5 separate regions of the Homo sapiens genome follow, and all the other regions are reported to be linked to region 2. The links are microRNA targets in miRTarBase. Many come from high-throughput screens and were not tested one by one. Region 2 holds a microRNA gene; each other region holds the end of a gene's coding sequence. Distances are from middle to middle.
Evidence for each region. The annotated mature microRNA hsa-miR-2115-3p reads CAUCAGAAUUCAUGGAGGCUAG and lies in region 2 at 2,886-2,907, shown strand. An mRNA with a match to its seed (bases 2 to 7 or 8) in the 3' UTR can be bound and repressed. Matches are read on the target gene's strand: a 7mer-m8 pairs with bases 2 to 8, a 7mer-A1 pairs with bases 2 to 7 and ends in A, and an 8mer does both.

Region 1: miRTarBase lists KYNU as a target of hsa-miR-2115-3p. Seed matches in the 3' UTR shown: 7mer-A1 at 462-468, 7mer-m8 at 624-630 and 7mer-A1 at 730-736.
Region 3: the mRNA of FCF1 is a reported target of hsa-miR-2115-3p. Seed matches in the 3' UTR shown: 7mer-m8 at 1,330-1,336 and 7mer-m8 at 2,177-2,183.
Region 4: the mRNA of ZNF621 is a reported target of hsa-miR-2115-3p. Seed matches in the 3' UTR shown: 7mer-m8 at 2,095-2,101.
Region 5: miRTarBase lists JKAMP as a target of hsa-miR-2115-3p. Seed matches in the 3' UTR shown: 7mer-A1 at 2,267-2,273.

The regions. Positions count from the first base shown.
Region 1 is chr2:143,041,851-143,044,850 of GRCh38, forward strand. It overlaps KYNU (kynureninase), which reads left to right. Exons shown (of 14, transcript NM_003937.3): 14 at 197-3,000. The coding sequence ends at 322. Among named protein-coding and RNA genes, the nearest start is that of ARHGAP15, 86 kb to the right of the region's middle.
Region 2 is chr3:48,314,529-48,319,287 of GRCh38, reverse strand. It overlaps MIR2115 (microRNA 2115), which reads left to right and starts at 2,829; the gene lies at 2,829-2,928. The region is part of intron 6 of SPINK8 (serine peptidase inhibitor Kazal type 8 (putative)); the gene reads left to right.
Region 3 is chr14:74,734,546-74,737,545 of GRCh38, forward strand. It overlaps FCF1 (FCF1 rRNA-processing protein), which reads left to right. Exons shown (of 8, transcript NM_015962.5): 8 at 337-3,000. The coding sequence ends at 385. Among named protein-coding and RNA genes, the nearest start is that of FCF1, 23 kb to the left of the region's middle.
Region 4 is chr3:40,532,528-40,535,527 of GRCh38, forward strand. ZNF621 (zinc finger protein 621) reads left to right here. Exons shown (of 5, transcript NM_198484.5): 5 at 1-3,000. The coding sequence ends at 563. Among named protein-coding and RNA genes, the nearest start is that of ZNF621, 9.1 kb to the left of the region's middle.
Region 5 is chr14:59,503,789-59,506,788 of GRCh38, reverse strand. JKAMP (JNK1/MAPK8 associated membrane protein) reads right to left here. Exons shown (of 7, transcript NM_016475.5): 7 at 1,379-2,935. The coding sequence ends at 2,717. CCDC175 (coiled-coil domain containing 175) reads left to right here. Exons shown (of 20, transcript NM_001164399.2): 20 at 1,474-1,722. The coding sequence ends at 1,550. It also overlaps a transcript of L3HYPDH not described here. Among named protein-coding and RNA genes, the nearest start is that of JKAMP, 21 kb to the right of the region's middle.

The DNA.
Region 1 (3,000 bases), not on the chromosome of region 2:
TTATTTCTTAAATTATTATCAAGAGAAAAGTTTCATAAAACAGAAAAACACCATGTTTTAAAGTAAAAAAATTTTGCATATATATTAATTTTTAGGGAAATCATTATGAAAGTGCTTTACATAAGTTTATCTGGAATGTAGATTTTCAACGTGTGAATAATGCTAACATTATTGTGGCTTTATTTTTTCCCCACAGTGTGACAAGCGGAATCCAAATGGCATTCGAGTGGCTCCAGTTCCTCTCTATAATTCTTTCCATGATGTTTATAAATTTACCAATCTGCTCACTTCTATACTTGACTCTGCAGAAACAAAAAATTAGCAGTGTTTTCTAGAACAACTTAAGCAAATTATACTGAAAGCTGCTGTGGTTATTTCAGTATTATTCGATTTTTAATTATTGAAAGTATGTCACCATTGACCACATGTAACTAACAATAAATAATATACCTTACAGAAAATCTGATATAATTTTTCAGAGTCTGTGGCACTAAGGAGTCCACAGGGCTGCCTAGGTGCTTTGTGTTTGGGGGACCAAAACTGTGTTGGTTCAAGTATTATCTATACAGTCTCTATAAGCTGTCACATTTCATGGTCATTGAAATGTTTTATGTTGGTTTAATTTCTGATTTAACTGACAACTTCATAATGTATGTGCAATTATTGTGTCAAATTTAGAAATATTACTTTAGCTTCAATTTACCAAGGAGTTTCTTTGAAGCATTGTAGTCTGATATATATATATATATATATATATATATATATATATATATATATATATGTGTGTGTGTGTGTGTGTATATATATATATATATATCATATATATATGATAGTGGCTTTCAAATTTTTTTGGGTACAATCCACATTGCTCCTGCTGATCTGTAATATCAGAAACCAGTATTTATGTGAATATATGAGAAATATTATTGATTCTAAGATATTTTATCATATTTTAACATCTTTGAAAGAGGACCCATCTTTCAATTTTCGATCAATAGTTTCTTACAGTCACCATTGGCCATCTTTCTCGTTACCATCTATGAAATTAGCATGCATCTCAAATAAACAGTTACCATCTTCTATTTGATAAAATAGTCTAAATAGCAAAAATAAAAGTTTTTACAATTATTTGCCTGTGCTCTAATAGGTACTATTCTATTTTATCTCATAAGAAATGTTGGAAACTCATTATATTGATTTCCTTACCCACTCATGGGCCCTAATTCACACTTTTTAAGAATGTTTCTTTCTTTAATGTTATCATAATCTCTTACTTTTTAAATGAGAACTTCCCCTAATATAAGAGCTTAGATATTATATTACTATGTTTCCATAGTAAATAAATAACCCCAAGATCTTTTTGGGGATTAGAGATATAAGAAATATGTGCTCCATCTCTTGACATCTTTATCTCAAATCTATGGACCTTTCTTACCCACTGTGAAAAACCTAAAGTTACACTTAGCCCTGTTGGACTTACCTAGTTTTCAATTGTTGATGCCACAATCATTATTTATAAGTTGACAAAATAGTGTAGATTTGTATACATAGTCAACAAAAAGAGTGACATAATTATTGCCTCCAATTAAACAAGTTTGAATGAAATAAACAAACTTAGATAAACACTTCGGATGGTAGACGTAAACAATAATATGTGGAACTCCAACATCAACACCTACCAATACCAGTAACTACTGATATTTATCATGTACTTACCATGTACCATGTATTGTGCTACATTACTCATGTTATCTCCCTTAATTGAGTGGCTACATACTGCTTTAGCAAATCTTCCTACTGTAACTAATCCTCATAGATGGAAGAGTTCTCAAAACCTTAAAACTCATGCATAAGTGGATTCATATACATATATAAAAATATATATAAATATATATACTTTATATATATTTATATTTATATATTTATATATTTATATTTTAATATATTTATATAAATATATATAAAGTATAATATATATAAAGTATAAATATATATATATTTATACTTTAAGTTCTTGGATACACGTGCAGAACATGCAGGTTTGTTACATAGGTATACATGTGCCGTGGTGGATTGCTGCACCCATCAACCCGTCATCTACATCAGGTATTTCTCCTAATGCTCACCCTCCTCTTATCCCCAACTACCCAAAAGGACCTGGTGTGTGATGTTCCCCTCCCTGTGTTCATATGTTCTCATTGTTCAACTCTCACTTATGGGTAAGAACATGCAGTGTTTGATTTTCTGTTCCTCTGTTAGTTTGCTGAGAATGATGGTTTCCAGCTTCATCCATGTCCCTGCAAAGGACATGAACTCATTCTTTTTTATGGCTGCATAGTATTCCATGGTATATATGTGCCACATTTTCTTTATCCAGTCTATCATTGATGGCCATTTGAGTTGGTTCCAAGTCTTCGCTATTGTGAATAGTGCTGCAATGAACATATGTGTGCATGTGTCTTTATAGTAGAATGATTTATAATCCTTAGGGTATACCCAGTAATGGGATTGCTGGGTTAAATGGTATTTCTGGTTCTAGATCCTCGAGGAATTGCCACACTGTCTTCCACAATGGTTGAACTAATTTATACTCCCACCAACAGTGTAAAAGCATTCCTATTTCTCCACATCCTCTCAGCATCTGTTGTTTCTTGACTTTTTAATGATTAGCATTCTAACTGGCGTGAGATGGTATTTCATTGTGGTTTTGATTTGCATTTCTCTAATGACCAGTGATGATGAGTTTTTTTTCATATATTTGTTGGCCGCATAAATGTCTTCTTTTGAGAAGTGTCTGTTCGTATCCTTCACCCACTTTTTGATGGGGTTGTGTTTTTCTTGTAAATTTATTTAAGTCCCTTGTAGATTCTGGATATTTTCCCTTTGTCAGATGGATAGATTGCAAAAATTTTCTCCCGTTCTGTAGGTTGCCCGATCACTCTGATGATAGTTTCTTTTGCTGTGTAGAAGCTCTTTAGTTTAATCAGGTTCCATTTGTCA
Region 2 (4,759 bases):
CCACTAAGGTGAGGGCACTGTGTGTGACCTGGACAAGCCTCAAGTGGAGGCACTCAGAAACAAGCAGCCATAGCATGTAGATCATGTGACCCTACATGAAGGTCATCCTCATGCCCCCTCAGGCCAAAGAACAGAAACAAAGAACAAAAAGAAGAGGAAGAGGAAGCTGGGTGAAGAATCTTCCCAGCTAATAGTTTATTGGTCCTAAAATGGATATTATTTTCCAAAACAACTTTCTTTTGCTTTCAACTTAGTATGTGGTTTAGTCTCTGCACCCATCACATGTTAGAAGCTTTGAGTAACACACAAGTGAAACGCCCAATTGTTTAGCCCAAGGGGAATAGTGAGGAGCAGGGGTTTGTATGAAGGAAACTCCGTATACAGTTAGGAGGATTCTCTGACATCTGCCTTCTCCTTTAAGGAGAAAAGCCACACCCTTGTCTAACTAAGGCTTACAAGTTGAGTGCTATCTTAAGAGAGAAAAGCAAAAACACAAGAGTAGATCAGAATTAAGTCTCTCTCCCCTTCCTCTTCTTAGCTTCTCCTCCAGAGAAGGAATAAGAATCTTCTTGATCAGGATGAGAGATATTTGGCTGGGCAGGATCGGACTTTCTTGTATTCTTGGCTGAATAAACACTAAAGCTTACACTAGAACCCATACGAGAGTTGTAAGGTAAACAACTTTGGTGTCAGCCTCAATCACTGGCACAGACGCTGACACCTGACAATCAGAAAGCATCATCTGGGGAATGCGCAGCATGACAGAGTCAAACGATGCTGGAACCAGGAGACATCTGAGAGATGGCCTCTAAAGAGCTCCCTTTCAGTGTATCTTAGAAATTATTCTAGCTGGGCGCAGTGGCTCACGCCTGTAATCCCAGCACTTTGGGAGGCCGAGGTGGGCGGATCACCTGAGGTCAGGAGTTCGAGACCAGCCTGGCCAATATGATGAAATCCCGTCTCTACTAAAAATACAAAAATTAGCCGGGTGTGGTGGTGCATGCCTGTAATCCCAGCTACTCAGGAGGATGAGGCAGAAGAATCCCTCGAACCCAGGAGGCGGAGGTTGCAGTGAGCTGAGATTGCATCACTGCACTCCAGCCTGGGAGATAAAGCAAGACTCCGTCTCAAAAAAAAAGAAATTATTCTCTTAGCAGTTGCACTGGATATTACAAGTTAAATTCTAATTTATACCAATCTAATTTGGATTAATACCAACTTAATTACAAAAATTTTAAAAAATATTTTTGCCTGGAGGGGTGGCTCAAGCCTGTAATCCCAACACTTTGGGAAGCTGAGGCAGAAGGATTGCTTGAGCCTAGGGATTTGAGACATGAGCAACATAGCGAGACCCTGACTCTACAAAAAAAAATTAAAAAATTAGCCAGGCATGGTGGCACCTGCCTGTAGTCCTAGCTACTTGGAAGTCAGGATGATTGCTTGAGCCCAGGAGTTCAAGGCTGCAGTGAGCCATGATCGTGCCACTGCACTCTAGCCTGGGCAACAGAGCAAAGTTCTTTTGAGACGGGCAGATCAGGAGGTCAGGAGATAGAGACCATCCTGGCTAACATGGTGAAACCCCATCTCTACTAAAAATACAAAAAATTAGCCAGACGTGGTGGCGGGTGCCTGTAGTCCCAGCTACTCAGGAGGCTCAGGCAGGAGAATGGCATGAACCTGAGAGGTGGAGCTTGCAGTGAGCCAAGATCGCGCCACTGCACTCCAGCCTGGGTGACAAAGTGAGACTCCGTCTCAAATAAATAAATAAATAAATAAATGCTCCTTTTTTTTTATTTTTTGAGATGTAGTTTCACTTTTGTTGCGCATGCTGGAGTGCAATACTGTGGTCTCGGCTCACTGCAACCTCTGCCTCCTGGGTTCAAGTGATTCTCCTGCCTCAGCTTCCCGAGTAGCTGGGATTACAGGCGCACACCAACACACCTAGCTAATTTTTGTATTTTTGTAGAGATGGGGTTTCACCATGTTGGCCAGGCTGGTCTCAAACTCCTAACCTCAGGTGATCAGCCTGCCTCGGCCTCCCAAAGTGCTGGGATTACAGGCATGAGCCACTACACCCAGCCAAAAAATGCTGTTCTTAAATAGCTCCATTCTCCCCATCCTTCTTTGAACTGTTTTTGTTATACAAATTACAGCTTTATTCATTGTACACCCATTCACACAGATTTATAATTGTTTTATGCAGTTGCCTCTTAGGAGAGAAAGATTTACAAACAAAAATATGTTTATACTGTCTATTATTTTCCTATATAGTTACTTTAACTGGCTCTTTATTTCTTCACATGAATTCAAGTTTCTGCTTATGATCCTTTCATTTTAGCCTGAAGGACTATTTAGTATTTTGTAGGTCTGCTAGCAACAAATTGCCTCAATTCTTCTTTATCTAGACATATCTTAATTTCACCTTTCTTTCTGAAGAATAGTTTGGTGGGCATAGAATTCTTGGTTGACTGTCATTTTCTTTTTTTATTTTTCTTTTATTTATTCATTTATTTATGAGACCAGGTCTCACTCTGTCACCCAGGTTGGAGTGCAGTGGCATGATTGTGGCTCACTGCAGCCTCGACCTCCTGGGCTCAAGTGATCCTCCCACCTCAGCCTTCTGAGTAGCTAGGACTACAGGCACACCCCACCATGTTCAGCTAAATTTGTTTTTGTATTTTTGGTAGAGACAGGTTTTCACCATGTTGCCCAGGCTGGTCTTGAACTCCTGAGCTCAAGCAGTCCACCCTCCTCCACCTCCCAAAGTGCTGGGATTATAGGTGTGAGCCACCGTGCCTGGCCACCTCTCATTTTCTTTCAGCATTTTGACTGTCATCCCACTGCTTCCAGCTTCCATGACTCCTGATGGAGGAATCACATGAATTCATCAGAATTCATGGAGGCTAGAAGCAGTATGAGGATCATTTACATGTGATATTCACTTCTCCCTTTCTGCTTTTTGGATTCTCTCTTTGCCTTTGTCTTTTGGCAATTTTATAATGATTTGTCTATGTGTGGCTCTATTAGAATGCATCCTATTGTAAGTTTTTTGAACTTACTGGATGAAGTTTTTCATCAAACTTGGGGAATTTCAGCCATTATTTTTCCAAGTATTCTCCTCTCCTTGAGGGATTCCCTTTATGTATATGTTGATGCCCTTGACAGTGTCCCACACTTCTCTGTGGCTATATTCATTTTTTTCCCAATTTGAATTGAGTTTTATCTTATTGGTTATGTGAGGCATTTTAACCCATTTTGTTCTTTTTTCTTCATAATTATTTTTCTTTCTTTTCCTCAAACTGGTTACTATTCATTGGTCTATCTTCAAGCACATTTGACTCTTTCTTCTGTCTGCTCAAATCTTATATGAGCCCCTCCAGGGAATTTTTCATTCTAGGTCATTGTAATTTTCAACTTTAGAATTTTTATTCAGGTTCTTGGAAAATTTTTTCTGTCTCTTTATTGATATTCGCTATTTGGTGAGACATCATTCTCATACTTGCCTTTAGTTCTTTGTTCTTTACATACAGTTTCCTTCAGTTCTTTTTTTTTTTTTTTTTTTTTTTTGAGATGGAGTCTTACTCTGTTACCCAGGCTGGAGTGCAGTGGCATGATCTCGGCTCACTGCAACCTCTGCCTCCTGGATTCAAGCAACTATCCTATCTCAGCCTCCCAAGTAGCTGGGATTACAGGCTTGTGCCATCAAGCCCCACTAATTTTTGTAGTTTTAGTAAAGACAGGATTTCACCATGTTGGTCAGGCTGGTCTTGAACTCCTGACCACAAGTGATCCACCTGCCTCAGCCTCCCAAAGTGTTAGGATTACAGGAGTGAGCCACCACACCCGGCCCAGTTCTTTAAACATAAGTAAAATAGCTGATTTAAAATGTCTTGTAAGTCCAACATCTGGGCTTCCTCAGTGACAGATTCCATTGACTGACTTTTATCCTATATGCGAGCCATACTTTCTTTTCCTTTGTACGTGCCATGACTATTTTGTTGAAAATTGAATATTTTGAATAATATAATGTGGCAACTCTGGAAATCAGATTCTCACCTCTATCCAAGGTTTGTTGCTGTTATTTGTTGTTGTTGCCATGTGTTAGTTTAGTGACTTCTGAAATAATCCTGTAAAGTATGCATTTTTTGTCATGTATGGCCATTGATCTGGTCCTACTCATTATCTTATTATCAGCTAATGATTGGAAAAAAATTTCCTTAAATGGCTGGAACCAATAAATCTCCCAGTCTTTGACAACAAAAACTTTGTGTGTGCACTGAGGCATGTCTCTACTCAACCAGGCAGTTTAAAGCTACACTTTAGTGGTCACTGGATGTTTGCACAGACCCACAAGATTAGTTAGAGATGAGATGTTGGGACTTTCTCTGGTCTTTTCTGAGCATGCAGAAAGCCTTACACTGGCTGCAAGGCCTTCTGTATTTCCAGTAACATGTTAGAGCTTTTCAAAACCTCCTATGGACATCTCATTGCCTAACTTACTTTTAAGCTCTTGGTTAACCTATTGTTTTTCACAACTGTTACACACTGTGCAGCAGCCATGATGTTAAACAGTTGCCTCTGATTGTTTTCAACAAATTTTCCCAGGGAAAAGGCTGTTTGCACCAAGAGAGGTTTGAGTATGGTCAAATAAAAGCTTTGCAAATGGGTCTTTCAGAGAACCACCCAGACAGGTCAAATAATGACAATTCTCTGGTAATGGTGCATTGAAGGCATTCCAACACCAGTCTTCTCCCTCCAG
Region 3 (3,000 bases), not on the chromosome of region 2:
TTGGCTATTTTTTGTCAGTACTCAGACTTATTTTCCAGCTTTTCAGCTTGAGGAGAGCACAATGTGGTGGGAAGTCTGTGGACTAAGAAGTTGGACTTACTGATCTCAGCTCCTCAGTTCCCCTCTTGCTGACTTTGTGACTTTGAAAAAACAATCATATTGTATTATAGTCAGCATTTTGCTGTAAATCATTCATTATGATGTTCCCCTAAATTGTTTCCACTGACAAAAAGGATTCACAGTGGGGGTGAGAGTATTGCAGTCTATAAAGGATGGGTTTTTAGATGGGTTCTCTTCCCATCTTTCTTACCGGTGTTGATTTTTTGTCCTGATCAGATACAACATTGAACGGATGCCAGATGATTATGGAGCCCCTCGATTCTAATTCTTACAAGACACAGTTCCTCTGCCTTTCTTCGACCAACTTTCTCTTGTTGCCAGTTCATTACACAAAATGTAGCGGGATTTTTAAGGAATCAGAGAGACTGATGGAGTTCAGGGAGATATTTATTATTTAGGTGCACCAGCCCAGTCAGATTAACATCCAAAGGACTGAACCCTGAACAGAGTTAAGTTACCTTTTAAGCATTTTGTGGGGCCGCGGGGGTTGGGGGGAATCTGTGCAGGGGGAAGCATATTACAGAAGCAAGAAAGACAGTTATTCAATTAACTGAGACATGCATTACATCATTTCTTACTTTTCAAGGAAAATCATGTTTTACGACTTGAGTTTATCTGTCTAGTTACCTTGCAGCTGCACAGCTAGAGAAACAGGGTATTTACAATGCCTGGGAAAGGAGGAGAGATAAGGCTCACTAGCCACAGAAAAACAGGCAGTTAATTTTTAAAGGACTCCAGCTCTTTCTCTTTCTCACGGGGAATTGGATTTTCTTACATGCAACTGAATTTCTGCTTACACATTTTTAAATTTCTTTTAATTGCTTTTCCAATGCAATAGCATGAATTATTATTCTGTTGACCTATTTGCCTTACTATGAGCTGAGGGTAGTTCAATATGCTCACTCTTTTTTTTTTTTTTCTTGAGATGAAGTTTTGCTCTGTCACCAGGCTGGAGTGCAGTGGCGTGATCTGGGCTCACTGCAACCCCTGCCTCCCATCCTTCAAGTGATTCTCCTGCCTCAGCCTCCCGAGTAGCTGGGATTACAGGTACACACCACCATGCTCAACTAATTTTTCTTTTTTGGGCGGGGGGGGTGGATATTTTTAGTAGAGACAAATACTTTTGTATTTTTAATACAGAAAAGTATGCCTCGGCCTCCCAAAGTGCTGGAATTACAGACATGAGCCACTGTGCCTGGCCTGCTCACTTTCTGATGCTGCTTTTTTGTTGTTTGTTTGTTTATTTGTTTGTTTTGAGACGGAGTCTCGCTCTGTCACCAGGCTGGAGTGCAGTGGCGCAATCTCGGCTCATTGCAACCTCCGCCTCCCAGGTTCAAGCGATTCTCCTGCCTCAGCCTGCGGAGTAGCTGGGACTATAGGTGCGTGCCACCACGTCCAGCCACTGATGCTGTTTTGCCACTGATGCTGTTTTGAAATTGATATTTTGTCTCATAAAAACTAGGCCAGGCATGGTGGCTCATTCCTGTAATCCCAGCACTTTGGGAGGCCAAGGTGGGTGGATCACCTGAGGTCAGGAGTTGGAGATGAGCCTGGACAACATGGCAAAACCCCACCTCTACTAAAAATACAAAAAAAATTAGCTGGGTATGGTGTCACGTGCCTGTAATCCCAGCCACTGGGGAGGCTGAGGCAGGAGAACCTCTTGAACCCAGGAGGTGGAGGTTGCAGTGAGCTGAGATTGCGCCACTGCATTCCAGCCTGGGTGACAGAGTGAGACTGTCTCAAAAAAAAAAAAAAATTAATGATGGTCAAAGGGTATAAAATCTCAGACAGGAAGAATATGTTTTATGCTTTTTTTGAGTTCTGTTGTACAGTGTGGTGCCTATACTTAATAATGGGGTATTATACATTTCAAAATTGATGTTCTCATCACAGAAATGTATTTGAAGTATTGCATATGTTAACTAGCTTGATTTAACTATTCCATATTGTATCCACAATTTATGATATCACTTTGTAACCCATACATTTATACAATTATAAATTGTCAATTTACAATAAAAAATTTTTGTTGCGTCTTTTTAGAAATCAGATATTCTGATGATTGCTCACATAATTTGGCGGTCATTGTTTTATACTGACTTACTCAATAAACATTTATTAAATGTATACTAGGTGCTTAATAAGAGATGGTCCTGCCCTCAAGACACTCATTATGGTGGGAAAGAAAAACATGTAAATGAATAAATGCCGTAAAATAGCAGTGCTAGGGTAAAAGTTTCAGAGGCATGTCATGGGCACATAAAGGTGGAATGATTTTTTTCTACTGGTTGGGATGGAGAGGGAGGAAAGGCCAGTGGTCATGTGGTTTGAGCTAATCTTAAAAATGAATAGGTGCCTCCCCAGTAAATTAGGAATGGAAGATGAAGCATAGGAAACAGTACACCATAGAAAATCCATTAACCTATGTATAATCCCAGCACTTTGGGAGACTGAGGTGGGCAGATCACTTGAGGTCAGGAGTTTGAAACCAGCCTGGCCAACATGGTGAAACCCCACCTCTACTAAAAATTCCAAAATTAACTGGGCGTGGTGGTGCAAGCCTGTAGTCCCAGCTACTTGGGAGGCTGAGGCAGGAGAATCGCTTGAACCCGGGAGGCAGAGGTTGCAACGAGCCGAGATCACGCCACTGCACTCCAGCCTGGGCGACAGAGTGAAACTCTGTCTCAAAAACAAACAAACAAAAAACCTATGTATTTGTGGGGATTTGGTATATTATTAAGGTGGTATTTCGTTTCTGTGGGAAAAGGAAATTTCATTAACAGGCCAAATAGTCTGGAGTCATTCTGTTAGTGTTAGAATACTAATTCCACCAGTTAATATCTGTATGAGTTGGACAAACCATATAACCATCTGTTG
Region 4 (3,000 bases), 7.8 Mb from region 2:
ATCAGAGATTACACACGGGAGAGAAACTCTATAAATGTAAGGAATGTTGGAAAGCTTTCGGTTGTAGGTCACTTTTTATTGTCCATCAGAGAATTCATACTGGGGAGAAACCTTATCAATGTAAGGAGTGTGGCAAAGCCTTCACCCAGAAAATAGCCTCCATTCAGCATCAGAGAGTTCACACTGGGGAGAAGCCTTATGAATGTAAGGTGTGTGGGAAAGCCTTCAAATGGTATGGAAGTTTTGTTCAGCATCAGAAATTGCACCCTGTGGAGAAGAAGCCAGTCAAGGTCCTTGGGCCATCCCTGGTCAGTCCCCAGTGCTCCTCTCCAGCCATACCTCCTGTTCTTCTCCAGGGATCCTGTTCTGCTTCAGCCGTAGCTGTGCCTTCACTGACCTTTCCACATGCTGTGCTCATTCCTACCTCTGGGAATTTTTTCATGCTGCTGCCTACATCTGGAATACCTTCTTCATCTGCCCAAATAGTGCGTGTCTTCCAGGGTCTTACTCCCACTGTGAAACCTTCCCCAGTTATTCTCACCCCTTCTTCTCACTCCTCATGAGCTTTATCTTGGCAGTCTTACGGCTCTTATGCCTAGCAAATCTCCAGCCTAATTTTATATATTTTTTTGAGAAAGGGTCTTGCTCTGTCACCCAGGCTAGAGTGCGGTGGTGTGATCTTGGCTCACTGCAACCTCCCCCTCCTGGGTTCAAGCGATTCTCCTCCTTCAGACTCTCGAATAGCTGGGATTACAGGCACGCCTCACCACGCCCAGCTAATTTCTGTATTTTTAGAAGAGATGGGGTTTCGCCATCTTGGCCAGGCTGGTCTCAAACACCTGACCTCAAGTGATCCGCCTGCCTTGGCCCCCCAAAGTGCTGGGATTACAGGAGTGAGCCACTGTGCCCAGCCTCCAACCTAATTTGAGTTTCATTTGTATTTTTTTCATCACCTTACATGTGTTAACAGCTGTTTCAACATAAACTCCATTATAATCTATATACATTTAAAGACCGTGTTTACATAATCTCTTCTGGGTAGAAAATGGAAATACTTAACCTTTGCATTGGTCCCTTTCAGGCTTGAACAACAGTGGCTGTATCTGCATCGTGGGGTTGCTGGTGGTAGAACACTTTGGTGTTAGGAAAGTTTGGAAAAGAGGATATCCCTGTATTAGGCCATTATGATTAGAGATAAGCAGCCTGGGAGAAACATACAAGACCTGTGGCTACTGGTAGAGAATTGGAATAAGCTTCCAACAATGGACTGTAGAGATTAATGGAGATTGTTTAGTGGGCCCATGGCTAGGTGGGGTATTAATACAGTTGAAGTTATGTTGCCCTTGGCACAGATCTTTGAGAATCTCATACATCTGTGAAAAAGATAATGTGAAATAAACAGTAAAAAAAAAAAGTATGTTGATGGCAGTGAGAGTAATCATGTCTTTAAACGTGAAGTTTTTTTTTCTTTAGTTTTGCTCTTGATAGCTAGATGTTTCTTTTAACTTTTATTTCGTAAGTAAATATACACAAAGGCATTCATCTTTGTTGAATCTGTTGTGCAGATTTTTCTTGATGAGCATTCTGTTTTTTTTTCTTTGTGAGCACTGGCTTCTATATTTTATTTCATATTTATGAATTATAAATATGAATTTAATTACTAAAGAAATAAAAATAATGGTGTAAAGCCAACTCGAGGGGAATCTGAATAAGCTTCCAAAATTTTTTTTTTTAAGAAATAAAGGGAGCTGTGTAGTGGGTCAGTGGCTAGGTAGGTTAGTGAAGTGGAATTTGGGGTTGCTCTTGGAAGTGGCCTTGATGAGGATCCTTTACAACTATTCAGAGGACTGTGTGAAGTAGTTACTGGAAAAAGAACTTGAATTATGCATTTATTGGCATTAATGTAAACAGTAAGTCCTAAGCTTTGATGGAAGGGTCCATACATTTTTTTTTTTTTTTTGCTGATGTTGCTATCTAGATGTTTCTCTATAGCAATTAATAGCAAAACCTTTACATTCTTGGTTTTTAAACTTTACCATGTGTCTGAATTACATAGTGTGCTTGTAAAAAGAAGAGTTTTCTCTCTTGCACAAATTCTGATTTTGGCTATCTGTGGTGATGGCCAGATCTTTAGCATGGACCATACTTTGAGAGATATGCTTCAAACAGAAAATGCCCACCCCTCCTCCTTTACCCAGCATAAACTCTATGGTTAATTCTTAAAATAATGCCTTACAGTCTCCATTAACTCCCTTGCCCTTCTCTTGCTTTGTCATGCTCGCTTGGCAAAACCTCATCTCTGACTAAATGCAGTTCTTTGCCTTCTCTGTTCCTGCACCAAAAATGATCAGGAGAAAGCATATTACCAGGCTGAACTGTCACTTTAAATTCATGACCAGTAACTTCATGGAGGCCCTTAACGTTTCCTGATGGTCATACTACAATTTTTGGAGTCCACTTAACTCCCCTGCTTTCCTAGGCCACTACTTTATACTTTCTCTCTTCTGTAACTTCCAAAGCATCCCTCTCAGTTCTCATGCTCAGCTGATGGTTATGTTTCTGCCTTCGGCGAGAGAACAGCAAGCTCCAGAAAGTGGCTGCGCCTTCAGCCCCGTGCTAGAATGAGAACATATGGAGCCAACTTGAGTTCGGAAGGGCTGTGGCCACCTCGTTTCGCCCATCTACTTTTCACCTTGCCGTATCTGATTCTTCACCACCGTATTCTCAGTCACTTCCACTAAACAGTGCCAGTGTTTTAAGGTTCTGTCACACTCAGTAACCCACTTCTGGTTCCTCATTCCGTGTCAGTGATCAGCAGTAGACTGAAGAATCTACCTTAGATTTGCTCCATACTATTAATTAGCTTACAAAATGTCTAAGAGGAGCTAAGCTGGGATGCCACATAGGCAGAAGCCAGGAAAAATGACCAACCACAGAACCAAGTGGTTCCAGTGGAAACTCAGCAGCTGCTGGTGCCTGCTACTGGACTGCCACCCCCCA
Region 5 (3,000 bases), not on the chromosome of region 2:
ATACAATCATCTACATTTTGATTAAGTCTAGAAAAACACCTCCTTATAATTAAAGCAGAATCAAAATTTCAGTGAGAAGAAAGAAAATCATTTGCCTAGTACTTGTCTCTTGGAAAAATTAAGATCTGAAATAGGAGGAGTTTAGATCAGTGGTTCTCAAACATTAGAATCACCTGGAGATTTTAAAAAACCCCTGTGCTCAGCTGGGTGTGGTGGCCCATGCCTCTAATCCCAGTACTTTGGGAGGCTGAGGTGAGCAGATCACTTGAGGTCAGGAGTGCAAGACCAGCCTGACCAACAGGGTGAAACCCCATTTCTACTACAAATACAAAAATTAGCTGGGTGTCATGGCGGGCACCTATAATCCCAGCTGCTTGGGAGGCTGAGGCATGAGAATCACTTGAACCCAGGAGGTGGAGGTTGCAGTGAGCCGAGATCGCATCACTGCACTTTCAGCCTGGGTGACAGAGCGAGACACTGTCTCAAAAAAAAAAAAAGAAAAAAAAAAAAAAATCCCTGTGCTCAAACACAGACCAATTCAACATGAATCTCTGGGTGTGGGGCCCAGGCATTATTTTTTTAAATCTCTCCAGATGGCTTCAATGTGCAATAGTCTCGCAAACTAATAGTTTTAGACAAATATATAACAAGGTAGTTATTAAATTTATCAACTAACTGACCCAAATTAATCAAGAAAACACAGATTTAGTATCCCTGGTCTGAAAATCCAAAAATCCAAAGTGCTCCAAAACTCAAAGCTTTTTCAGCACCAATATGACGCTCAAAGAAAATCCTCTTTGAGAATTTAAGATTTCAGATTTTAGGATTACGGATACTGAACTGTAAGTATAATGCAAATATTCCAAAATCTGAAAATACCCGAAATTCGAAACACTTCTGGTCTCAAGCATTTTTGAATATGAGATATTCAACCTGTATTTTGACTTTTAAATTACCTCTTCAGGACTGGTTAGCAAAAGTACCATACACTGTAGTGATAAGGATTGTGATGTGCTACAAGGGCCTAAGTCAAAACTTAACAAAGACAAGGGTTGATTTTTAAATTTCTTATGACCACGTTTTAACAAATTATTTAGTAAAATTAGCAACTACAGTGGCTATAAGTTGTTCTAGTCTTATTTTTACCAAAGCAAATTAAAAATGCAGATACATATTAAGTATTGTGGAAATTATTTGCCCGTGAGGCCTTGTAATTGTAATTTCTTCTTTTGCATATATACTTTTCTGCTAGAACAGGACATATGAAAAAAATGATTGTAAAAATGGCCCCAAGTGGACCAGAAGATATAGTCCTAGTAATCAGACACATGACACCCCTCCCTACTCTACCCCGATTATACAATTACTCAATTGAGGATTCTTTGGGCAACTCAGAATTTTAATGAACACTAATAACCCCCCAAATGTGTGCAATACAAATAAAATTTTTATATTTATTTTTTATTCCTACAGAGAAGAAGAAACACATTCGTACAAGGGTTCATTTCCCAGTGGTTAAATGTACTGAGAAAAATACATTAACAAAGTAACTCAAGGATACAACTGCTGTGAATTCAAAAGACAGACTACTACAGGAAAAGTGAGTGCACTTACTTTCATATTTTGCAGCTGTTAATAGAAGTCTTAAACATTTAAAATTTAACTAATTCACACAACCTCCACCAAGTATCAGTAAATAAACTTCTAAACAATAAAAATGGATAAACATGGTCAGGTTGTTAGGTTAAGAGCTAAAAATTTCATTTTGCTTCCATGGTTGCAACCATGAGTCTTAAGGCCTTCAAAGCATAAACATCACAGAACACCTATCACAAACCACAAACCAACCACAGGAAAACCCTTTTTATTCTGTGTATCTTCTGTATTTCATTAAATCTAATAAGCCATCAGTTGTAAGATGCATCCTAATTCAGAGATGTCACAAAGTGAAATAAGTATCTCTGGATCAATAAAATATGGTATGTATATATACCCGAGATATGAGAGGAAACTATTTACCAGTTTGAATTACTTCCATACTATTGTGCCAAACAACAATTAAGTGTCAAAACATTGAAATTTTATGTAGGTAAGCTTTTTATTATTGTTTTCTTTACAGGAACAATAATCCAAACAAATCTTGAACCAATCTATAAACAGAAAACCTGTTATATAAATTATTATCTATTTTTGCAATACATCAAAATACTGTATTGATGAAAATAAATAGATAACAAAAAACAATATACATCATTTCTATGTTTGCTATCAGACCCCACAAGTATGTTTGTTTTTACAATTCATTATAGGTGAAAAACAAACTGAAACACAACAGGTAAGTACAATTACGCCACTGTTAAGGACTGCAGATTACACGTGTTAAAGCTTTTCTTAATAAAATGGGAACACATTGCTAGGTACACAGAAACATGATTTTGCCCTAAAGAACAGCTGAACTGTTGAGAGAAGCAAGGGCTTCCTAGCGGCCTTCCAGTGTAGCAGATAATATTACCCTGTGTAACAGAGTATTACAGAGTTTTGCATTTTCCAAGTCTGTAAGTCTAACCATAAACAAAACAAAGACAAACCCAAACATTAAGATATACTGACAATCTTGTTCCCATATATGATAGAATAGTTCTCATACACTGTTAAGATTGATTTACTTTTTTATTAGGAGCACTTCTCAGGTTTTTGGCATTTCACATGTCTACACTCAGTGTCCATTGGCTCCTTCTGAGAGTATCCTTGAAGGTTCGGTAAATTTTGCAGTGAACAAGTAAAAAAGGGCTGGTGTAGGTACCAAAGCCAAAAGGGGCAAATCTTGCTCAAGTTTATCCACTCTGGAAATGGAGATTATTCCATAGGCATGAAGTAACCAGTGGCTGAAGAGAACAATAAGTCTTTTCTTTCTGACCAGAAGATCATAGCAGTTCTATATAATTTTGTAAAAGAAAGAAAAGAGAAATACAGATTATCAGGCTAAGTCAGCTGGGTAAT